Linked DNA regions of Homo sapiens: regions 1, 3, 4, 5 and 6 are each reported to be linked to region 2. Evidence: microRNA targets listed by miRTarBase, many of them from high-throughput screens and not tested one by one. Region 2 holds a microRNA gene; each other region holds the end of a gene's coding sequence.

Region 1 (4,121 bases), not on the chromosome of region 2:
GAGGAATCCATATGAAATCCAGCTGTATCTCAGCTACCAATCCATAGTGTTTGTGGTGGGTGGAGAGGAGAACAAACTGGTTGCTGAAGCCATGGTTTCCCTGGGAAGGTGGACCCACCTGTGCGGCACCTGGAATTCAGAGGAAGGGCTCACATCCTTGTGGGTAAATGGTGAACTGGCGGCTACCACTGTTGAGATGGCCACAGGTCACATTGTTCCTGAGGGAGGAATCCTGCAGATTGGCCAAGAAAAGAATGGCTGCTGTGTGGGTGGTGGCTTTGATGAAACATTAGCCTTCTCTGGGAGACTCACAGGCTTCAATATCTGGGATAGTGTTCTTAGCAATGAAGAGATAAGAGAGACCGGAGGAGCAGAGTCTTGTCACATCCGGGGGAATATTGTTGGGTGGGGAGTCACAGAGATCCAGCCACATGGAGGAGCTCAGTATGTTTCATAAATGTTGTGAAACTCCACTTGAAGCCAAAGAAAGAAACTCACACTTAAAACACATGCCAGTTGGGAAGGTCTGAAAACTCAGTGCATAATAGGAACACTTGAGACTAATGAAAGAGAGAGTTGAGACCAATCTTTATTTGTACTGGCCAAATACTGAATAAACAGTTGAAGGAAAGACATTGGAAAAAGCTTTTGAGGATAATGTTACTAGACTTTATGCCATGGTGCTTTCAGTTTAATGCTGTGTCTCTGTCAGATAAACTCTCAAATAATTAAAAAGGACTGTATTGTTGAACAGAGGGACAATTGTTTTACTTTTCTTTGGTTAATTTTGTTTTGGCCAGAGATGAATTTTACATTGGAAGAATAACAAAATAAGATTTGTTGTCCATTGTTCATTGTTATTGGTATGTACCTTATTACAAAAAAAAGATGAAAACATATTTATACTACAAGGTGACTTAACAACTATAAATGTAGTTTATGTGTTATAATCGAATGTCACGTTTTTGAGAAGATAGTCATATAAGTTATATTGCAAAAGGGATTTGTATTAATTTAAGACTATTTTTGTAAAGCTCTACTGTAAATAAAATATTTTATAAAACTAGCTCACGTCATTTAATTATAAATTTAAGAGATGTTTTGGAGCAAACTCGTACTTTTCTCTTTTCATTTAAAGTAGGCAATTAGTTTTCAGATACTATTATGTAAACAGCATGGTTAATATTGTTAGGAATGAGCAACTATAGACTTGTTTTAAGTTTGGCTTCCTATAAATCATAAGCAAGAAATATTATCTCTGCCAAGTCAATTCATCTCTGTGGGTTTTAGTTTTCTCAGCTGAGAAATCAAGGAATTGATGAAATAAGAATCTCTAGGACTCTTCCCATTTGACAATTCTAGGAGCTTATACAACTTTCTGTACTGTGTAACATAAAAACAAACACCAAACATGAATTATCACAGTTCCTCAGATACACATGATGCTGCAAGACATGGCTTAGGAATGTTATTTGGGAGACCTAAGAATCTGGAAAAGAACTCCTGCCCTGAAAGCACACCCCATTCTCTTCCTTACTCAGAAGGGAGAGGTCAAGCCCCTTCACACTGTGGATGGGGAGGTAACTTTTCCCCACCACACTAGTATTCTCCTGTAGATTCTATGTGAGGGCTGATAGAAGGGCCTCACAAAGCTGATTCTGAAATGTTGTGGGCCCACAGTGATGATATGTCCTCTGAAAGATAGGGCATGGACAACCACAGGACATTTCCTCTTCATGAGGTTTGGAGAATAGGACCAGGAGTAATTTTGTAACTAACTAGCTAGGTGTCAGACAAGTTACATAACTCCTCTGCTTCTTCTCAGTAAAAGGAGGTGATTGGACTCAGTGCCTTTCAGCAATAAAATTCCATGAATCTAATAATTTTTGAGTATGTTCATCATATAAGTATAGCTTCATTCCACTTGTGAAACCCACAAACGAGGCTAAGCCTCTAAGAAAATCACTTGTAGTTAGGGGCTGATAGGCCAGTCTCAGACTCTTGGAGATCACATAATTCAAGGCTCTAGGCACACTGGGCACATGCAAAGTCCCTGTCTAGCCATTGTCTATATGACTTGAACTCCCAGCTGGAAGAAGGAAAACTAGACCCAAAACTTAAGCAGAAAATTAGGCATGATTTAAATTCCTTTACATGCTGCAACACGAATTATACATGTTTAAGTGATGCCAGATGTTGCAGGCCGAGATAAATGCAAACTCATATGCTGACAGAATTTAATATAAGAAAACTTTTAATTTTTTTAAGTAATTACATGTTTAGGGTGAAGAACAAACAAATAGAAGAAAATAAAATAATACTTGGGTTAAAAAAGTAGAAATTTCATCTGTTAGAGCAGTAAGTCTAGCTAGGAGTTCTAGGGACTTCTAATTGTTCCCAGATATTCATTTTCTCTCTTTCTCTAAATGACAGAATCCTAGCTTTAGTGGAACATGTGACCACTCAGAGTAAATTCTATATTTTTCAACATTACTTGCAGCTTGATGCAGCCATATAACTATGTTCTGACCAACGCTGAAATATTATATGTGATTCTTTTCCTCCTTCTGTCTGATTGGAATATGGTAATGGGCTGGAATTTCAGCAACCATCTTAGACCAGGAGACCCCATGCAACAATACAGAAGAAGCATGGGTTCCTGGTCATTGTGAAGCCATCTAGCCAGCCCTGAGCTGCCTGCCCACGGACTTCTTTTACGTGAGAGAAAAATATACTTTTGTCGTGTTTAATCTTTTAGTTGGTTGATCACTCAATCTAATTTTGATCCAGTAATTTTTATTTTAATTTAAAAAACTACAGCCAGGCGGGGTGGCTCAAGCCTGTAATCCCAGCACTTTGGGAGTCTGAGCCAGGCAGATCAGAAGCTCAGGAGATCGAGACCATCCTGGCCAACATGGTGAAACCCGTTTCTACTAAAAATACAAAAAATGAGCCAGGCATGGTGGTACGCACCTGCAGTCCCAGCTACTCGGGAGGCTGAGGCAGGAGAATCTCTCGAACCTGGGAGATGGAGGTTGCAGTGAGCCCAGATCATGGCACTGCACTCCAGCCTGGCAACAGAGTGAGACTCTGTCTCAAAATAAGTAAATACATAAATTAGCTGGGTGTAGTGGCGTGCGCCTGTAATCCCAGCTACTCAGGAGGGTGAGGCAGGAGAATCTCTTGAACCCGGGAGGCGGAGATTGCAGTGAGCCAAGATCGCACCACTGCACTGCAGCCTGGCAACAGAGCGAGACTTCATCTCAAAAAAGCAAAACAAAACAACAACAACAGCAACAAAAACAACTACGCACTTTATTCTCCCTAAAACACCCATAACCTAAACTTGGAAAATGCATTTTACAAATTCTCAGGAAGTTGGATATCTGACTTAAAAAAACAACAACAACTAAGCAATAACATTTAATGACTTTGAGAATATATAGGTGTTAGCAAAAGGAGGAAATAAGAAATGTGCAAAACTGAGATAAAATATCTAAAGAGAAGTATCAGCATGCTGGCTTATGTTAGCACATTGTCACACATTTTCATTTACCAAATACTTATTGCGACATCACCATATTACAGCATAGTAAAGTAATTGTGCAAGATGACTCAAGCTATTAGGAGGAAAGATGTATGTGTAATAAATATGTAATATATATATATACATATAAATAATATTATTTGTGTGTGTAGAGTGAACAACTGTCCTGGTTTGCCTAAGACTGTCCCATCTTTAGCACTGAAAGTTCCATGTCCTGGGAAGCCCTCAGTCCCACGCAAACTGGAACAGTTTTTCACTCTAGTATGTATGTATATATCTCCAGCAGAGCTAATTTTTTGGCAGAGATAATATATGAACTAAACACAGTTGATATTATTTTCCTTGTCTATTACAATATAAATTGGCTTATAAGTATTAACACCTTTAAAATATATTCAGAACATTCTACTACCAAGCATATAGTGTAGAATTGTAGAGCTTTCTATTTACAATTACTTGATTGACTTCACTTTAACAAAGAATTAGATTTGCAAACAAACAAGAAATTATAATTGATTTTTATTTCATTTCCTGTCAAATCTTAGATTAGAAATCTCTTCCCTGAGTTTTACTA
Region 2 (4,000 bases):
GGACTTTTGCCACATCTTCACTTTGAAACTGCACATGTCCAAAATGAAATTCATTGTCTCCTCCAAACCTCTACCACCAAAACAAGTGTGTTGCTTCTGGGTTCCCATCTGTCTCATTGAAGAGGACCATCACTCACCCAGTTGCGCAAATCAAGAACTTTGATGTTCCCTCTCCCTCACCTCCTGCATCTAATCAATCAGCACATCCTGTTGGTGTTTCCTCCCAGTCTCTATCGATGCTGTCTATTTCTCTGCACCCTGTACAGCTTTGACTTCCACCTGCATTAATTTAATTCTGCCTGGATTACTACACTGGCCTCCTTGACAACATGTTGTCCTCACAGAAGGACCAGAGTGACCTAGCTGAAGGGTCACCTAGGTTGGGTCACTTCTTAGTCTCGAATCTGCCGTTAACTCTCATGGATCAATTTGAAATTCCTTAGAATGAACCTCAAGGCCATTCATGAACTGGACCCTGCCACCCAATCCTGTGCACCTCATCCTCTGTGAGCTAGCCATCCTGAACTTTTGTCCTTTCCACAATACACCAGGTGTTTCACCTTTCTATACTGCCCCTTAACCCCTTCAACCTCATTCTTATTGAGAATATTTACTTGAGTTTCAAGATTTAATGGGAATATCACCTGCTTTATGAAGTCTTTTCTGAGTATGTCCCCAAGTGACCTTTATCTACTTTGTTTCCCCGCTGTTCTGTGGACATAGGTTTTTCAGAGCTCCTCCAAAAATCACAGTAGTATACTCACTGTCTTATAAAATTAAATGTGATTGCTTGAGGGTAGGGTTCATGCCTTGCTCATCTCTGTATTTCTGGCCTAGGGCCTGATACTGAGGAATGCTCAGTAAACGCACTCATTGAATGGACTTCAACAATGAGGTAAGAGAGGCAAGGTCCCACAGCTGGTGAGGCCAGAGACAGGACTCCAAGGCATTGTGCAGGCTGACTTCATGCTATTGGAGACCTCAGGTGGGCTTCCAAGTCTCATAAGACCCTCTTTCTCACATTCCTTTCCAGTTTCCTATCCTGAGAATGAGATGATCTACAAGTGGGAAAATTTCAAGCTTGAAATCAATGAGAAGAACTCCTGGAAGCTCTTCCAGTTTGATTTTACAGGAGTGAGCAACAAAACTGAAATAATCACAACCCCAGTTGGTAAGCGTGCCAGGGCTTGGCGGAAGTCCAGGAAGGTGGTAGGGATGATTGGAGATGGCCATCCATACAAATGCTTTGCAGTCATCCCGTGCAAACATTGTAAGACATGGCTCCTGTCTTATAATTGCTAAGCACTTACAACTGTTTGCAGAGGAAACTGAGACTTTGTAACTATGTCTCAGTCTCATCTGCAAAGAAGTAAGTGCTTTGCCAAGCTCCTTGAGAGGTTAGGTAAGTAGATAAAGTTCTGCTGCTGTCGGAATGTGCAGCTGGCTTTTTCATGCAGACCCTTCAGTTTCGAGGTTACAACTCTGACCTCTTTGGATGACTTTGGGGAATGGAGCTCGTGTGAGTTCTCCATACCCAGAACCAATCCAGTCTGGTTGAATGGGAAGCAAAGTCCATTGTAGTGGGAGGTGGAGGCTAGAGTTCTAATGTCAGCTAGTTTAAGGCTGGGAAAGTCTGGAGGAAGTTACAGCAGCTACACTGGCTGCTGCATTGACATTTATCTTAAAGGAACAAGTCTGAAAAGCACAGATTCTTATCAAAGGCTTCATGGTGGATTCCACATAGACATAGTGGCCACTGGTTTTCTGACCTTTTCTCTGACAAAGACTAAAGGGGAAGGTCCTGGGTATCTTACACTTCAGCTCCCAATTAGATGTGAGCACCTTCACTTATGTTCCTAGGTGACCTGAATGAGGAGCCAAGGGACCTCCCCAGGGTAGCTCCCAGAGCAACCCTGGAAACACTCTTCACACATCCTGACCAAGTTCAGGGCAGTGAAGGCACTGCCCTCATCGTTTCCAGAATGTGGATGGAGCCAGTCACCCAACCAGCCATTTGTCGTGAGAGGCATCTTGTTCTGCTACCATGTGACTAGGCAGAAAATCTGCTTTTGTTTCATTTATTGAGTCAGTCTCTGGATGAGGGAAAGCTCATGCTCATGTGGCTAGAGCTTTGCTTGCACAGTATTAGGCAGGGGCAGAGGGCTGGGCTACCTTAAAAATACTTGCCCTTTTTCTTGGGGACTCTGGGGAAGCGGTTTTACTACCTTTGACTTGGGAGCCTTGCTCTTCTGCCAGCTAACCATGGGCCTGCCTCTTGGTTTTCTGCACCTCAGCTTTTCCCGGATAGGTGGGGACCCATCATCAAAAGTGACAGAGAAGATAAGGCCCAGGGGCTTTCAAGTCACTAGTGGTTCCGTTTAGTAGATGATTGTGCATTGTTTCAAAATGGTGCCCTAGTGACTACAAAGCCCCAGAGCCAGCATCATCATCAAAGCAATGACAGTAGGTAAGCACCAGACCTCCTTGGGAGTGAGGAGGATTCTTGAGGAGAAAAGAGGTCTTCTTTCTCCTCTGCTGGAGACTAGTTGATCTGGAGACGTGGTTCCTTCAATGTCAGAGTTATCTTTGGGACTGGTCTCAAACTCTTCCAGTTGGGCCCTGGGGCAGGTCTCTCCATCTGGAGCATACTTACGTGCTCGGCGATTAAGGGTTCAGAATGCAGTGGTAGCCTGCTACTCTGGCCATCTTGGACCTTGATCCAGAGAATCTCTGCTTCAGGAGCTTCTAAGAGAGTCCAGCCCTGCCTCCAGAGAGAGGCTTGCCCTTCACTGATGGCTGTGGAGCCTCTGATGGAATATTATTGCTGGTCAGGAATTCACTGTCTTACAAGGAGGTTTCCTTCTTCTCTAGACAGTTCTGTTCATCAAAAAACTCTCCCTGTTCTTCTGAAATTGGAGTCTCTGGAAGTTCCACACATTAAGCTTAGTTCTTTTTCCTTGGAACTGTCCAGGTTACATTAGTCCAGCCACTGTTTCACAGGACCGAGATTAAACGATCAACATCATCATTCCCGGCATGGATCATAGTCTGTTGTAGTCTACATAGCCCTAGTTTATTTTTCTTCCCTTATTCTTCAAAGCTTTGGGTCCATTCATTCTTCTAGTCCCAGTCCTCTGGACATGGTCTATTTAATTGTGTCCCTCTGACACTGCAGTGACCAACCATGATCTGGTCAAAGAGGATAAGAGTTTGAGCAGAAAACCATCTTTAGCATATATTTTTTTGCTTTGGTTCATCAGCCCCAGATATATTGTTTTCCTTACCCGTGCTTCTCTCACTCCTCAAGAAGAAGAAAGTGTGTGTTAGCATCTTTCTCTTGTCCTTCAAGACAAATTGGCATCTCTTGACGAGCGGAGAAGGTTCTTTTTTGGCCAGAATAAATAAAATTAAAATAGAATCATCCAACAGAATAATAAATCTTCGTGCAACAAGAATATATTATATAAACCCAGCAATTTTGCAGGGCCTGGGTATAACTAATTAGAAGTGTCTTAAATTGCAGTCAAGATCCCACGGCAAGAGGACTTTTGATAAATACATTCTGGCCAGTAGGCAAGTGCGAGGGTGGTCCGTGCAGCAGCTCTGGAGGAGTTCTATCCCAAAGCTATACTCAACACACAGGTTTCCCACTGACAACAGGTCGCTCCCTTGCCTTCTTCCAGAAGAATCTGAGAAGCTTTGCTCCTTGAGTTTCAGTGCTGCCAAGGTGAGTACGAAAGGCTGCTCTTCTCATTCAGCTCCAGCCCACCCAGACCTGCTGGGCAGTTGATCCACTTTCCAAAATAGGAGGACACACGGACAGGTTAGTGTTCTGGTCTGCTTTACAAAGCTGTTGCCTGACAGGAGCAAGAGTTGCTGAGTGTCTGCTGGGTTCCAGGCTGTTCTGAGCTTGGATGGGCAGGGGCTAAGCCACAGGGCCTGCATGAGCCCTGCCTTGAAGGGACTTAAAAGACGACCTAATTATAGGCCTAGGAATTTT
Region 3 (4,121 bases), not on the chromosome of region 2:
CAACACCGAGAAGATCCGGGTGCCCCTCGGGGGATCGCGTGGCATCACCTTCCAAGTGTGGGACGTCGGGGGGCAGGAGAAGCTGCGACCACTGTGGCGCTCTTATACCCGCCGGACAGACGGTCTAGTGTTTGTGGTGGACGCTGCGGAGGCTGAGCGGCTGGAGGAAGCCAAGGTGGAGTTGCACCGAATCAGCCGGGCCTCGGACAACCAGGGCGTGCCAGTGCTGGTGCTGGCCAACAAGCAGGACCAGCCCGGGGCACTGAGCGCTGCTGAGGTGGAGAAGAGGCTGGCAGTCCGAGAGCTAGCAGCCGCCACTCTCACTCATGTGCAAGGCTGCAGCGCTGTGGACGGTCTGGGCCTGCAGCAGGGCCTTGAGCGCCTCTATGAGATGATCCTCAAGAGGAAGAAGGCAGCTCGGGGTGGCAAGAAGAGACGGTGACCCAAGCCCCCCCTCCCTTTCCTCCCACCTAGTAGGGGTCTGCACACTTGGACAGCAGGGTGGGACCAGCCTGTGACCTCTCAGTCAGACTGGGGTGCAGGACCTGTCCACCTCAATGAAGGAGAGAGGAGCATGGGGTGTCCCGTTTTGGTGCCACACTGGGGTGGGGATGGGAGATGGGATGTCTTTGCATATCTCTCTCATCCTCTCTGGAGAAGTGGGCGCTGCAGGACTGTGGAGACGTAAATGTAAACTGTGACTCTACCTCGACCCTGTTTCTTATTTTTCTTCTCTGGCTAAAAATTTTTAATTGGATGTGTTTGGGGGCGGGGGGATGGAAGTGACTTGGAGAATGTGTTTGGGATGAAATAACTATCTCCCCTTCCTCTGTCCCCCAACTGGGGAGTCTCCCCAGGCTGCTTTTCTAGGAATACCAGTCACATAGTTTTTATTTTTGTGTCTGTGAAAGTGCCAAGAACCCCTCCCCACATTTGTAGATCCATGACCCTTTTTATAAGCTGTGTGTGTCCTCTGTATTATTGTTATTAACTATTTTTTAGCATTTGCCTGTAAGTTATTAAAGACTGATAACTGTAGCTCTTACCTTGGTCTGGGGCATTTTCCTCTCCTTATCTTGCCCCAGAGACAATTCAAGATTTCTATATGGGGTTGTGGCGCAGGGGGAGGGAGATTTATCTTGAAGCTGAATTTGCAAAGCAAGCACTTATAAAAATTAGATTGTGTGTTACGGGATGGCTTGTGAAAATTATAGGGGGGAGTGGAAAACCCCTCAAGCTATTGCCTGATCTCTGTAGTTTTTTGGGTGGGGTCACTTCCTTTTTCTCTGATTTAACACCCCTCCCCTCATCCTCTGGGTCTTACTTGTCCCTTATATCAACTGCTCCTTGCAGATTTAACTTCAAATTTTGCTAGTCTGAGCTACTCCTAGGTTCTTGACCTTGGTGACACCTAAGTCTATATAGGTAAGTCCTCAAAGAGCCATTCTGTTCCCATCCTCCCCACTTCCCCAGTCTTAGGTTGGTTTGATTTTTTTCCTCCTTGTAAGATGTGGTGAGAGTGGAAAGTAATTCCTCCCTGGCCTTAAGTCACCTCTGTGTACTCAATCCTGCTGACTGGCTCACTGGCATGATGGCAGCGGCTGGTGCTAGGGAGGCCTGGGCTGGATTGAGCCAGCCTGGCCCTGGTGACTAAGCCATGAGTTTTCCAGCTCTGGGAATGGTAGCTCTTCTCACGAGAGGGGCAGAAGTAGTAGCTGTTTGTGCTTGGTGGCAGAGAGGACTGCTGGACATACACCCTCCAGACTCCAAGATAGAAGGGGGAAGACATAAGCCCCCAGTATTTGTGGTGATTGTAAGAATAAAATGCTAATATTACAAGGGCTTGAGTGCCCCTACTCACCAGCACCAGGGCCAGCTATGTCTGATAACAGAACCCTTAGATCCTCTTAATCTTCTGGGTGGGAGCAGTGAGTAAGAACTAAGCACAAGGCCGGGCACAGTGGCTCACGCCTGTAATCCCAGCACTTTGGGAGGCTGAGGCAGGAGGATGGCTTGGGCCCAGGAGTTCAAGACCAGCCTGGGCAACATAGGGAGACCATGTCTCTAAAAAAGAAAAAAAACAAGCACAATTCTTTCCAGTTGTCGAGCCCTCCAGCCACCCCCTGCCACCTTTTGTGCAAACACACAATCCCCAGAGCAGGTTCAGCGTTCACACCCTGCTTCTCCCCAATTCTGTCTCCTCTTCTCCGGAATCAGATGAAAGGACCTGGGGAGAAAGAGAAGGTGCCGGCAACCCCCACTTCTGGGGAAGGTTTCCTAAAGAACTTGCTTCTTCCTACCCAGCGCTGCCAGAAGCTCAGATTTGGTCCCCTCCCCATCCCTGTAGCTGGCAGGATTGGGGTGAGTGTGCATTGATCCGGAAGGGTGCCCAAGTGTGCGTCAGTGCTAGGGCCTGCTTGACAGAACTGCTGGGCTGGTTCTGCTGGGAACATGTGCTACCTGCCCCTCCCCCAGACACACCTGCGACTCCTCTCCCAGTCTTTTTGGGGCACAGTCCTATAGCCCAAGGACAGGTTGAGGCCCCAGTCCAGGCTGGAAAGGAACTGGCCAGAACTGACCCTCTGTCCTGCCAGGAGATCTTTCCTCCCCACCCCACCCAAATTCTGCTCTTTTGTCTTAAAATCTTCAATTATACATTTTCATTTCTTGTCACTTGGTGTACTTAGGTCTCCAGATTTGGGGGAAGAGGTGCAGAGGTGTTCCCCAATCCCTAGCAGAGGGGCCTCCAAGATGTCAGCTCCTGATTCTGGCTCTTCCAACCACACTCCTTCCCTACCTGCTTAAAACAGGTATCTTCTGCTTCCCCATGCCCAGCCCTGGGGGCGGTCAGGGATCATGGTCCACAGGAGGCCTTTGAATGTCCCAGGCTCTTCCCCAGTCCCTCTGGCCTGACTGTCCAGCTGGTGGCACTAAAGGAAGATGGGGGCTTGTGTCAGAGAGAGACGGAGAAGCCAACTGCTCTGCCAGAGTAGTGGGGAGAGGGGAACACTGGGGAATTCTGAGTAGAAAGCCACAAATTGTGGCCGGGTCAGAGTCAGGAGCTTTGGAATAATCCTCCTGCCTTGGCTCATCAAAGGGACTGGAGAGCTGGAAGGGAAGGGATCACTTCCTATCTGCAGGATGAGAGAGGGAGAGAGAACCTCTCACTCTCCAGTCCTGCCCAGAGATTCTGCATTTTGAACTCAGGGCAAGGGCAAGGAATGAGGGTGTGATCAGGATGGAGAGTGAGGTTATATTTGCCCTGTACTGGCTTCTCTATTAAGTAGGATTTCTTCGAGACCCTGGCATGGGTGCTGAGGAGCTCTTCCTTGGGGGCCAAGAGTGGTGTGGCTGAGGCTAGTTGCCTGTAAAGTTGAGGGAAACCTGCTGTAGACCCAGAGTTCCAGAGTAGAGGCCGTTTTTTTTTTTTTTTTTTCCTCCTCTGTTACCCAGGCTGGAGTGCAGCGGTGCGATCTTGGCTTGCTGCAACCTCCACCTCCCCGGTTCAAGTAATTCCCATGTCTCAGCCTCCCAAGTAGCTGGGATTACAGTCACGCACCACCATGCCTGGGTAATTTCTGTATCTTTAGTAGAGATGGGGTTTCGCCACGTTGATCAGCCTGGTCCTGAACTCCTGACTTCAAGTGATTTGCCTGCCTCAGCCTCCCAAAGTGCTGGGATTACAGGCGTGAGCCACCATGCCCAACCCCAGAGTTGAGGCTTTCTTCTGAGCTGTCCTTCCCCACCCAGCCACCCCTTCTTGCACAGGTTGGAACATAAAATCCAGATGGAAGCCTTCCTTTCCTGGAGCTCCTCATCATGAGGGCAAAGATGGCAGTGGTCCCCCACTTTCCCATGCCCTTTCCAGTCCTCTCCATGCTGCAAGGGCTCAAGGAAGACAGAGGAAGGAAAGAAGTCCCTAAGGCCCAGAGTGGGCAGTGACTTGCCCGCGGATACACGGCCACTTAGCAGTGCACCCAGCTCCTTCCTCCCAGGCCAGGTCTTTGTACTCCCAGGGCAGAGGATAGGAGGTAGGAGACAGGGAGCGAGCACAGTTATCTCAGAGCTCAGATTCCCCCCTCCCTCCCTCTTCCCTCTCCTTGATTAGATTAAGGACCAGC
Region 4 (4,121 bases), not on the chromosome of region 2:
CCGACGAGGACATAGGGACGTGGCTGGTGCAGCTCAGCTACCCAACGGATGACCTGCTGCATGTCAGGCTCCTTCTGCTGCCATTTCTCACCCTCCCTGCTCCCTCCCGACCAAGGGTATTAAAAGGTATGAATATTGTCCCAGGTCCAAAGTAACAAAAAATTTAAATAAATTTCTAGGCATGTGGCCTGGTCTGCAGAATGAGAGCCTTCTTGCTGCGCATTGTGGTGATGGATTCAATCACAAAGCTCTCAGTGGTTTGCAAAACTCAATGCAAATTCTAATCCTTAGGAGAGTCATCTTTCTGCCTGTGTTTTTTCCTTGCTTGTCCTTCGGTCTCTGCCAATTTCAAGGAGACAACGTGTCACATGATTCCTTTTAAAGTCAGGCTCTGGCTGGTGCTGCTTTTCCTACCCACTGCCCATCTGCCAGCTCAAAAGACAACCTGAGTGCTGGGTGGGGTGGGGGAACCGCCACAGTGAGTGCTCAAGTAAGAACAGAAATATTTGACTGGACTGGGTCCTAACAGAGGCGATTTTATTACCCTAAATGTCCTGGAAACCCTGTTGCCTCTGGCTCGAGAAGACTCCAGGCTTGGCCATTCCCGGACGGCCTGCTGCAGCGAGCCTTGGCGTCCTTCTGCAAGTGGCTGTGACATGAGTCATGGGGGCAGTCTCTAGCGAGGCTGAACAAGAGGTGGGCACAGAGCAGGAAGGTTGCATCTTCCTCCCATCAAGGGTGAGAGACTAGCAGGCTGGCAATAACCACTGGACCCCCTGGGGCTTATGGTGGGGACCAAGGAGTCAGCATCAGCAGGAGGAGGTTGACCCCAGGGGGGACAGGTCAGGCCAGTCCAGGCCCTGACAGAAGTGACCCTCCTGTTAACTGCTGAGCAGTGCCCGTAATATCAAAACCAGACTTTGCCTTAGGATGGAAAGAACACGCTGGGTTCTTTCTTACCATCCCTCTCATTTAAAGGAGCAGTGAGGTACAGGCTCCTAATTCTTTCCCTTCGTGAAAGTCGCCTCTTTTATTCAACAAGGGAGCCTCAGGCATGCTCTTATGGTGGTGCATGAATGTCACAAACAAAGCTGACTTTATTTTTATTTGAATTGGCCAAGTAAAATGTTCCATACAAGGCAAACAGTTCAACATGAAATATTTAAATTAAAAATAAATTACTTCCATCCTATATAAATCTCTAGCTGCCACATACAAATGAAAGATACCAGTTATAAATGAAATAAGTTAAAATAAATGGTTGTAAGGAGCTAGGTGTGGTGGCATGTGCCTGTCATCCCAGCTTTCAGGAGACTGAGGTGGGAGGATGGATCTCTTGAACCCAGGAGTTTGAGACCAGTCTGGGCAACACAGCAAAATCCTGTCTTAAAAACAAACGTAATTGTAGGATCCTCTGTTACGACCAGCATAGGTTACTGGTTTGCTCCCTAACTTTGTTCTGGACTCCAACATCTCTATTGAATGAGACTTTTGAACAGTCCTCTGGGATAGCCCCTTCTTAAAAGAGCACTTGATGCCCAGGTCTCCAAATCACTTTCAGATATGAGGATCTGGTGTTCAGAGTCTAAAACAATGGTTGAAGAGCAGAGATAGCAAGGTGGAATCCCAGAGGCCCAGGCCTCTCAGCCACCCTCTCGCTTCTCATGGATTCACCTGGAGATATGGAAATAGGGAACTCAGCAAAAAAGCAAGACATAGGCACAGAGCGGCAGTCACACATAGCAGTTGAGTCTGAGACCTGTAATGTGGCCAAACACTTCTTTGTATCAACATATGGCAATTTCCAGCACTGTCTTAGGCTAAATTTCCCATAGGATCTCTGGTTTTATTAAGTGGGCTAGATTAATTTAAACCTCTGAATTAGAAAACAAACCTTCAGGGGCAGAGTTTAGGCCACAGATGACAAATATACAAGGCATGTGTCACTAATCCCTCCATGGGCAAGAATTACTAATTGACCACAGCATTCTTCTATCTCAGATTCCATCTTTACACAGTACTTCGGGCAGCCTCTACCCATCAATCATGTTTAGTGTTTGGGATGAAAATCATTTATTAACCTTGGTCCTTCTCTATGTTCTGAACTATTTTGTGTGAAGGAGTAGCTCTAACACAGGCATTGAAGCCTGACACTCACATAAGTTAGGTGCCTTAGTCTAATCATTTAACCTCTTTGAATTGGCATCTATTAAGTGGATAGGGCCACCTAATAGAGTTTTTAGAAAGATTAGGATGATATATATAAATTGCCTAGTATCATGCCTGAAACATAGGCATTTAATAGATGATAGCTATAAGTATCATTATCATCATTATTATTATGTTATTGTTTTAAGGCTACTAATGTTGACAATGGAATTGATGATGACATTTTCACTGATAGAAGAAAAGCATAGTATCATATATGAGGTTGAACCATATGAAATTGATGCTCAATTGTTTTTGACCTACAAAAATGTCAACTTTTTCTGGTTCAAGCTAACATATAAGATATAATAGTGTATTTCATTCAAATCCCTTACTTGTTCCAACATATCAGAGTCTTCTTTTCAATGGTTGCCCCCAGAGACACACTCTCACCATTTAAAAACTTCCCCAAGTCAGTTGCTAGAGAGTAGGCAAAGCAGGGAGTCCACTGGAGAGAAGTTAAGGACCTGCTGTCTGGTTCCACTACCTGGTATCTGGTCCTGTAATCTCTGAAGGCCTCCATTTCCCCCTCTGCAGATTGGGAATAATTGTGCTTTCTTCCACAGGGGTTTTGTGAAGATAAGAGATAACGGATGAGAAAGCACTTTCAAAAGTTCAAATTATTATACCAAAGCAAGGGATTATTGATTCCACTAGACTATGCCACTTCAGAAAACATTAGCAGTCAACATTTAACTTTTAATGTTTTTCTATAGAAAAACTGCACATAAAAGAATAGAGAATTCATGCAATCATGCCAAATGGCCATGAAAATCAATCTTGAGTATACTCTCAAGTGGATATTAGAACTACTAACTTTATATATAGTGCTTTGTCCTTGAAAATTGTACCTTGTCAAGGTGAAGTAAATGCAGTAATGGAAACAGTAAGAACCATTGTGTTTACAAGTGCCTCAAAGTCCATTTACACTAGAAAATCACACACTTTAGAGCAACTCACAAGGAAGACAGAGGAATTGCTTTTTTCCTTCCTTGGAGGTCTTTAAAATGAGCTGGGAAAGTTTAATTTTTTGCTTAAAGATAGAGATACAAACTTTATGACCTCCCAAAGTCACTTTCAGACCAATGGCTTTAGCAATTCTAAGAAGGGGCAGTTTTATATTGCCTTCGAGGGACATTTCTTTCCTGTGCCCTATCCCAGGGTAATCAATGAGTGAGGGAGGATAATGGGTTTGGACCAGCTACTAGCAGAGGTGCGTGTGGCTCAGTTTCAATCCTGAAGGTTTTTCCTCTTGTCCGGGGAACCTTGGCCAACACAGGGCACTTGAAGAGGGTCACCTTTAGTCGGCCTCAAAGGCGCTGTTGGTGGCTCCCACATATTCAGACTTCTTCTTGTGCCTTGTCCACATTTTCCGGAGGATGCCGGGGACGCCGCAGGAAGCACTGCCTGTCAGTGGTAGAGAGGCTTCTGCTCCTTGGGGAAGGGCTGGATACTCTTCAGTCATCTTCTTGAGATGTCTGGATCTAAAGAAAAGCCAGGAGTGGGTGGGGAGGGTGGTCTGCTCACAAGCCAAACTTCATTTTTGCCCTTAAGAAGAGTGGCCAGAGCTCTCTCTCCTCTGCTCCTCCTCAGTGACCGGGATCCACGTAGCTGTAAGGTCACTGTTGGGACCCTCACAGGAACGTCTTCCCTTGGGGAAAGCTTCCCATGGCATGAATGGAGGAGGTGACCCTGAACACACTGGTTCATGGGATCTCAAGTTCTGCTACTGTCCCCCTGCTCTGGGTCTGGTCTTGCCAAAGGCTCTGCATACCTACCCCTTCAGCCTCTATGTGAACAAACTTGCTGGAAAGGACAGTTCCCCAAACAGTAGCTATTGAAAGAGCATGAGGTCTGGGATGGAATCCTGCTTCCCATCTGCTGTGTGACCTCAGGCAAGTGACTTAACCTTT
Region 5 (4,121 bases), not on the chromosome of region 2:
AGTTTTGCTGTTCTGATTTGCTATAGGGCAGTGCTTAGAGAAAACAGAGAAGGGAATGGAACATAGGTTTATTAACCAGTGGTCTCTAAAGTGTGGTAGCACAGCAGGGTGTGGTGGCTCAACACCTGTAATCCAAGCACTTTGGGAGGCTGAGGCAGGAGGATTGCTTAAGAGCAGGAGTTTGAGACCAGCCTGGGAAATCTAGTCAGACGGCGTCTCTACTGAAAATGAAAAAAATTAGCCAGGAATGGTGGTGTGTATCTGTAGTCCCAGCTACTCAGGAGGTAGAGGTGGAAGAATTGCTTGAGCCTGGGAGGTTGAGGCTGTGGTGAGCTGTGATTGCACCACTGCAGTCCAGCCTCGGCAACAGAGCAAGACCCTGTCTTAAACAAAAAAAGAAGTGGTAGCACAAGATGATCCATTGCAACGAAGGGCCAAAGTGTTAGAGTTATGTTGAGCTTATAACCTTAGAGACATAATAAGTGGACTTTCACCAGTGCCCTCAGTCTGGGTCAGACGGGAAGAGTGAAGTGGGACACTCAAATGTTAGAAGTAATTAATCCTAGCACTTTGGGAGGCCAAAGTGGGCGGATCACAAGGTCAGGAGATCGAGAGCATCCTGACCAACATGGTGAAACCCTGTCTCTACTAAAAATACAAAAACTAGCTGGGCATGGTGGCGGGCGCTTGTTATCCCAGCTACTTGGGAGGCTGAGGCAGGAGAATGGCGTGAACCCGGAAGGTGGAGCTTGCAGTGAGCCGAGATCACGCCACTGCACTCCAGCCTGGCGACAGAGTGAGACTCCGTCTCAAAAAAAAAAAAAAAAAGAAGAAGTAATTACATACTTACATTATTATTTATTCCTACCCTGCTTTACATGTACTAGAAGACTTTTACATGAGGGAAGTAAGCAAAGAAGGTTGCAAGAGGATAACCTAGTAAAAGAACTCTGATGTCTGAATGGCTTCCCTTCATGTCTTGCTTCATTACCCTAACATTTTAGATAAAGGGAAATTTAATTCCTTGAACAAATTAAGTAGCATTTAAATATAAAGATTACTTTGATAAAAGAGTTAAGCCATAAAGATTATCTTTCTTGAGAATGCATTTAGAAGACCTAAATACAACTTTTTCTCCTCCTTGGCCAGAATACTGACATTCCCTTAATACAACTAAGTAAAAGTGTTCTATTAGGCCATGACAAAATAACAGTTCTGCTTGAACAGCAAACACCCAACTGATCATTTAAATTGCCTGAATTTTTAAAACTTGAATTTGATAGAAAATGAGCCAGGTTTTTCCCTGTTAGAAGAGATTGTTTTTACCTGTTAGAAGAAAATGCAGGCAACTTTGGGAAGGACGTGCAACTTTTATGGTTACGAAGCCACTATTTAAATAGTCTAACATGCAACTTACAGGTGCCAACTCCCTAGCAAGGCTTAACTTAGAAAAGGCCTCAATTATTCAACCACTAACAAAGTTCCTTTATTAGTAAGAGATGCTTTTAAAAAAGAACCAGATACTTTAAAGTGTTACATTAAATGCAAACTCTTCATCTATTTCAAATGAGTATTTTTGGAGTGTGGAATAGAGTTGTTCACAGTTTTCACTTCTGGTTTCTCATTCTCGATTATGCAAAAATGAACTCACAGAGACGAATTCAATTATGTATTTTGAAAAGTATTTACTTAGTTTAAATAAATTAATTGCAAATAAAAATTAAGCTACAATATATAGCCTGAATAAAAATGACTAGAACAAATACAACACAGGACTTGCTTTCTTGCATTAGTCACAAAGCATGTGACAATCTAGAAAACTTCAAAATCAATTACATTTCTTTGAAAAAGGGGTAACAGCAGTTACTGATACATCACAACTAATAAACTTATAATACAAGTTTCCTGACATGCATTTCCTGAGTGAACCCAAATGATCATTTTTTAAAACAAGGAAGTTTCGACAGTTGAAGTAAAATAAAATAATTCATGGCTTCTAAGCAACAAGTTTTGTTTTTTAAAAACCAAAAGAAAATTCAGAACAGTTTTGTAATAGGATAAATTAAAGGTATGCTACCACATATAAAACTTTGCTACAGTCAGTTAAGTATTATACAACTTTTCAAACTAAAGGAAAACAAATCAAAATATTAAAAGAAGATACTGTCTAATCTAAAAGTGTACTGGTTTCTACAAGTGTCAAAAAAAGATTTGATGTAGTGCAACTGTCTATACTTGTGGTGCCTTTGAAAAAAGGGTGGGAAGGAGGGGAGAGAAGAAACTTTTCTTGCTTCTGGAAGCAAAAGACATATTGGAATTAGAGAATAAACAGACCATGCAGTGCGTCACTCCACGCTGCAGTCATTGGTGCTCATCTGCCAACCAAACATTTCCTTAAGTCTCACTGTGGCAATCTCCTTAGGATTCAAACCCAGAGTTAAGGCTGGTCTGCTAAAAACGGGGGCACTATTGTCATTCAACCCTTTAGATCTCTAGATTTCCTAATGCCCGAATAAGGCCAAATACAGAATAATTAATTAAGCATTTCTTTTTCCAAAAGCAAATCAAGTCACTCTCCTTTCTTGCTAATTTATACTTTTTCTTATGGCAATGATTTTTTTCTAGAAACAGTGAACAGATGAACCACAGTTTATATCCAAAAAATAAACTTGCCAAATGCTGCTGATACTAAAAACAGATTAGTTATCATGGGAGAAAAATAGATAATCTAGATTAAATTGCATATCCAAAGGAGCATATAAAATGTTTCTTAGCATTAAGTTTTTGTTATAGTACTACGCTCGAGAGAAACATTAAGAAAAAATCTTTCCTGATTATCTTCAATGTTGTTAAAAACAAACACCTTTCACGCGGGTAATTAGTATGAATTTGGTCTTACAAATTACAAAGTATTCTAATTTACCAAATTCCATATTTAGATTGGGGTGGGGAGAGAGGCTCTCTCGTCCTTCTTCCTAACTTTGCAAATCCTTGAGCTAGGTTGCTCACTAAGCTACCATTCACACCAAGGGTGTGACACCATCGTTACCATGCTACTCTATCAAGAACATTCTAAGGTATTTTCTATAATAAAGATAAATAGAAAAAAGTTAATATACATGTCGCTGTATTTTACAATGTTTGCAACAAACTGTAAACTAACATAGTTTGAACCAACAGTACCCTCAGTTATACAAAACAATTTCAGCACTGAGGATAGGTGATTCAAAAACACTAAAAGGAAGGCATCAAATTAGACTATGTCTTTTTCTCCTCAAAATATATTTTCAAAACTCAGAATTCAGAAGACTGATACTTTCAGAAATTCCTTTGCTTGAGTTTCCCAGATTTTTGCTCAGAAATTGCTACTATTTATTATAAATGTTTTAAAAAATTCTTCATCTTAATGCAAATGACCAGAGCAGAAAAACTGTGACGTGGACAACAGGTTCGAAAACCCAACTCACTTAGCTTATAAATTTATAATGTAGTCCTGCAAGACAATGGTCTGTTAGTCTAGAGGTCCTTGAAAAATAAGTCTGATGTAGCCTTGTTCACCAGCCAACTGATGTGCACAAAAGGGACAGGCTGCATGAAAAGTATGAGTACCATGAGGAAGTGGGATCTGGGACCAATAGGCAGTTGTCTTTTCTGAACACACATGCCCACACGGGCTAAACGCATGGGTTGGAGGGCCGGCGTCCACATAAAATCCAGCTTCACATCCAAGCCACAGAGGAACATAGGGACCAACAGACCTACACATAGGACATTCACGATCTTTTCCATCACGTTCTTCTTTGTTTCCCCAGTTATGATAGCCATGTACATGGCCGCAGTTTAGATATACCCATGGTTGTTTTTCATCTACAACGTCTTTCCTCTTCATACTAGGAAATGCTAGTGTGTTGAACCCTACAGGGCACTGAGGTCGTGCTGCATTGATTTCCTGTCTTAAAGCTTCTAAATGCTTCACGGTAGGAGTGTGGGAAAGGCCTTCTGCAGTACGCCATAACAATGTTGCACCACAGAGGTCAATTAACGAGCCATCTTGTAACTGATTGGTTTCAATTTCCACCTAGAGGAGACAAGAGTTGAAAAACATATTCACCACTCTGTTT
Region 6 (4,042 bases), not on the chromosome of region 2:
ATCCATAGCAGAAGGTGAAAAAGCATCCAAAGTAAAGGGAGTGTAACTGAAGGGGATTTCCCTGAGCCCCATCTCAAAGGAAGGAATTTAGTTAATAATAGGCTACTCAAGACAGCGAATGTCAATGAAAGTTGCAGATTGCGCCACCTGACTCCTCATCCCACACTATGTTTCAGCAGATAACAAGCCCCACTAATGAAGACTCATAATCAGAAAAGACCCAGAAGGGGACTGCTCTGGGTCAGGTTCTCTAGAAGCAGAGCCTCCAACAAGGATTCTTTGAAGAGTGATTTATTGAGGGAGCGCTCTCAGGAGAAACCTCTAAGGAAGTGAGAGAAGCAGGATCAGGCAGAGGGAAAAATTAAACATGGCTTCTGCTGAAGTCTAGCCTCAGTCTGATCCCATAGGGAGCTCTGAAGCATGACTGGCACCGGAGAAGTAGACTGCCCCACCTTGCAGCAAGGGAAAAGGCTTTGGAATTTCAAATCCATCAGTCACTGGCTGTGGGCCACACTCAGGTGAAGGACATAATTTCACAGGTATTTCTGGGTAAGATAGCTCCTGTCATGAGGGCAAATTCTCAGGAAAGAGTGCATCTGTGAGCCATTAGCAGCCAACACTCACAGCAGCTGGCTCATGAGTACAATGGCTTGGTAAAAGGCATCTGGGCAGAGCACCAACAACACCTACTATAGCAGCGGTTCTCAAAGTGTGGTTCCTGGGACAGCAGGATCAGCCTCACCTGAGAACTTGTTAGTAATGCAAATTCCCTAGCTCAACCTCAGATCTGTCGAATCGTAAACTCTGGAGATGAGAACCAAGAATCTGTGTTGCAGCAAGCCCTCCAGGTGATTTTGTTGCATGCCCAAGTTTGAGAACCATTGAACTACACTGGCCTATGGCTAGCAACTGTAAAACAAAAGGATTGGAATTGAACCCAAACCTCTTGCAGTCTCCTGCACATAGCCCTTTTCCCACCTTTGCCCTTGTAGTTCTCCTCACTTGAAATGCCCTTCTCCCTTCCCATCTTCTCCAGGCTCCCATCCCAAATTATGGAAGTACTGGGCATCTTTGAAGACCAGCTCAAATGCCACCAGCTCCAAAAAGCATTGTTGGATTCACCCAGCTCAGAGGATTGCTGTCTCCTCTGTGCCCTCTGAGCACTTAGTCTTCACTCTAACATATACTCCACCTTGAGTTATGGTCATTGGAGTGTATGTCTGGTCCCCTGTGAGATTAAGCTGCTGGAGGACAACAGCTCTTCCTCGTCCATCTTTGCATAACTCTGCACCCAGAAAAGAATCAATGCTCAATGTTTGATGCATTAAGTTGAAGAGAATCTAATTGGAAAGCCGGGGGTCTATTTTTGTCATTCTGAAAAGCTCCTCAGTTCCAGCTACTATTATTTAGTGAAAATGGGGAGATTTCTGTGCATTTGTAGACACGAATTGGAAGACCATCAGAGAAGTGATTCAGAAGAGGCTTGCCTTACATCCTGTCTCCTTTTGTGCAACTTAGTACTTAGGAGGAACAGTGAGTGCTCATCTGTGCTTCAGTCCCATCATTGTCACAGCTTCTCATTTTCAGTATAGCCTCACAAACTCATGCCTATGTTGGTCATGAGTGGCTTTGGTAGGATGGGGAATTTTTATTCAGCATCCATATTGTCTTGTCCTCCTTCCACCTCCAACCCCCCAAAAAAGGGCCCGAGGAAGCAGTTGTGGGACAATAATTATGATAATCGTAATAATAGCCAACACTTCATGACACTTTCTCCAAGTCAGGCACAGTTCTGAGTGCTCTACTCATGAATCTATGGACTAGGCACTATTGATACCCTGTTTTATAGGTCAAGATACCAAGGCAGCTTGATCAAAGTCACCCAGCTGGCAGGAACAGAGCTAGGACTCTGGCCTTGAAGTTAGAGATCCGGTTTGAATCTCGGCTTGTTACTTACTAGTTCTGAGAAGTTATGCAAGTTACTTAACTCTCTGAGCCTTGATTTCCTCATCTGTAAAATGGGGATAATCATCTCCTCTTTGAGATATATAGAGATTAAATGAGATAACATATCTGAAAGTGACTGTGCCTGGTAGATGATTAATAATAACTTTTTTTACGGAGTCTCGCTCTGTCACCCAGGCTGGAATTAAGGGGCACCATCTTGGCTCACTGCAACCTCTGCCTCCTGAGTTCAAGTGATTCTCCTGCCTCAGCCTCTTGCAATAACTATTTTTAAAATAATAAAGTGACAACATTAATAATATTAACTTTGTAGCAACTAAAGTATAGCTAAAGAGAATATGTTCTCATGCTAGCAAAAGGTCTCCTGATCCATTCTTTTATGTCATGTTATAAAGGTAATTTGATTCCAATGTGAAAAATTATTTCACTCCAGCAGGAGTTCATAAGACAAAACCACATTTAACATGTAACATAGGGCCTGAATGTTCTTCCCCCAAAATGAGGCCCTTTCAGCGTATGGTATTTTTGCTGGTCAGATTACACTGGGTAATCAGATACAAATTGGAAAAGAAAATGTAAAGATCACACGGAAGCCATCCAAAATAGCCTGATATATTTTAATAATTCTGTTATTAGTTTACTGCATCTTATAACATTTTCTTTTGAATCAAGTCACAGCCGTGTGTACTTTAGGCTGTGGCCATCATAAACAAATATGTAAAGACACAGAGTTAAAATAGATGAATACCAATGGCTATCCATCAGTTTGATGTAATCTAACACAAATGACCATTAAGAGACTTGCGAAGAAATCAGAGAAACAGAATTTCACAAATGAGCTTCTGCATAACTGAATGACAGCATTGCTGGTGCCTATTGTTTGGTTTGGTCAAGGTTATGCTTTTGGGAAGCCAACCCTCCCTTCTAGATGACTCTGTTGAAAAGTGAGGCTAGTGGAAGATTTCAGGGTACAGAGAGCTAGATTTCTATGAAATATATTCAAAGATGGTAAAGTGAGTACTCTCCTCTTCCCTGGTAAAATTAGGGATGTGTTACCATGGAAACTCACCCATCATCACCACCAATGTGGACAGGTTTAAATCTTTTGGCAAGGAGAGGATGACTGCCTCCTCCTGTTTCTAATCCCTCCTCTTCCAACTCCTCATCTCTTCCTAACAACTGGAATTCTTCCCATAATTGGTTCTAAAAACTAATTTAGTGTCTTAAATGATCAATTCCATAAATGCAAATTGGGTAAAATGAATTTCCCTAATAGAAGGAATGCCAGCTTGAATTACTTGGTATCAGAGTGGCTGGAGAGAGATACCGTACCTCAGAAGTGTGCCTGTAGAGTGCAACTGCTCTCTCAAAGACCGTGTGCAGGGAATGTGGTCTCCAAAGTGGGAGCAGTGTCAGGCTCTACTTTCTTCAACAGGGAACTGTTTCTTCAACAGGGAACTGGCCTGAACAGCTCAAGTGTTGCTTCATTTTCTGATAATAACAATTTGTCTTGATTGGGTGCTGTGGCCTGCATTCCTCAGCTGGGAGTTGTTTGCTTAGATCAGAAAAATCTGAGCTAGTGATTCAGCTAGGGACACAGGTCAAGGGTAAAAGCCAGCTGGGTCTCAGGGAGAGCTAAGCCTTGAGAAGCCCTCCCGTTGGTCACCTAGAATTGAGGTATCTGTCCAGATTAACTGTGGAGCTTTTCCAGAACAGCACGAACTTCCTCTGGGTTGTAGTTCCAAGGGCCAGATTTACCCTGCAAGAGAAACGAATCAGGCATTCCCAACTTGTAAGGATTTCCAAGTTGTAAGGAACATGTAGGTCTGGAGGTTAGTTGCAAGAGGTGGTCAAATGATGTCTGTGTAGGAGCCATCAGCATGGCTAATTCAATGGCAGATGCAACCGTGAGGTGGTTGAGAAAGTGTGTACAGTGGCATCAGCAGTTAACAGGAAGGTTGGACAGAGAAGTAGAAAAACTAGAGGACATAAAGTGACATAGTCTTTCAAAAAGAGAAGGGTTCTGTACAAATAAGCTTTTCTTCCATAATCAGACCTTCAGACTGGCCTAATCTTC

Evidence for each region. Region 2 holds the annotated microRNA hsa-miR-224-5p (UCAAGUCACUAGUGGUUCCGUUUAG, at 2,358-2,382, shown strand). A microRNA usually pairs through its seed, bases 2 to 8, with sites in the 3' UTR of a target mRNA and lowers its output. Matches are read on the target gene's strand: a 7mer-m8 pairs with bases 2 to 8, a 7mer-A1 pairs with bases 2 to 7 and ends in A, and an 8mer does both.
Region 1: miRTarBase lists PTX3 as a target of hsa-miR-224-5p. The part of its 3' UTR that is shown has no 7-base or 8-base seed match.
Region 3: the mRNA of ARL4D is a reported target of hsa-miR-224-5p. Seed matches in the 3' UTR shown: 7mer-m8 at 784-790.
Region 4: miRTarBase lists VXN as a target of hsa-miR-224-5p. Seed matches in the 3' UTR shown: 7mer-m8 at 2,618-2,624.
Region 5: miRTarBase lists PELI1 as a target of hsa-miR-224-5p. Seed matches in the 3' UTR shown: 8mer at 2,565-2,572.
Region 6: the mRNA of DIO1 is a reported target of hsa-miR-224-5p. Seed matches in the 3' UTR shown: 8mer at 2,633-2,640.

What each region holds. Positions count from the first base shown.
Region 1 is chr3:157,442,523-157,446,643 of GRCh38, forward strand. PTX3 (pentraxin 3) reads left to right here. Exons shown (of 3, transcript NM_002852.4): 3 at 1-1,111. The coding sequence ends at 457. The region is part of intron 4 of VEPH1 (ventricular zone expressed PH domain containing 1); the gene reads right to left. Among named protein-coding and RNA genes, the nearest start is that of PTX3, 7.7 kb to the left of the region's middle.
Region 2 is chrX:151,957,010-151,961,009 of GRCh38, reverse strand. It overlaps MIR224 (microRNA 224), which reads left to right and starts at 2,352; the gene lies at 2,352-2,432. GABRE (gamma-aminobutyric acid type A receptor subunit epsilon) reads left to right here. Exons shown (of 9, transcript NM_004961.4): 6 at 1,034-1,171. MIR452 (microRNA 452) reads left to right here and starts at 1,298; the gene lies at 1,298-1,382.
Region 3 is chr17:43,399,897-43,404,017 of GRCh38, forward strand. ARL4D (ARF like GTPase 4D) reads left to right here. Exons shown (of 2, transcript NM_001661.4): 2 at 1-1,241. The coding sequence ends at 442. Among named protein-coding and RNA genes, the nearest start is that of ARL4D, 3.0 kb to the left of the region's middle.
Region 4 is chr8:66,515,464-66,519,584 of GRCh38, reverse strand. VXN (vexin) reads right to left here. Exons shown (of 6, transcript NM_152765.4): 6 at 1,061-3,692. The coding sequence ends at 3,509. All of the region lies in intron 1 of LOC124901955 (a long non-coding RNA gene), which reads left to right. Among named protein-coding and RNA genes, the nearest start is that of VXN, 24 kb to the right of the region's middle.
Region 5 is chr2:64,091,191-64,095,311 of GRCh38, forward strand. It overlaps PELI1 (pellino E3 ubiquitin protein ligase 1), which reads right to left. Exons shown (of 7, transcript NM_020651.4): 7 at 1,462-4,078. The coding sequence ends at 3,512. Among named protein-coding and RNA genes, the nearest start is that of PELI1, 51 kb to the right of the region's middle.
Region 6 is chr1:53,909,613-53,913,654 of GRCh38, reverse strand. It overlaps DIO1 (iodothyronine deiodinase 1), which reads right to left. Exons shown (of 4, transcript NM_000792.7): 4 at 2,569-3,724. The coding sequence ends at 3,656. It also overlaps a transcript of IFT25 not described here. Among named protein-coding and RNA genes, the nearest start is that of DIO1, 17 kb to the right of the region's middle.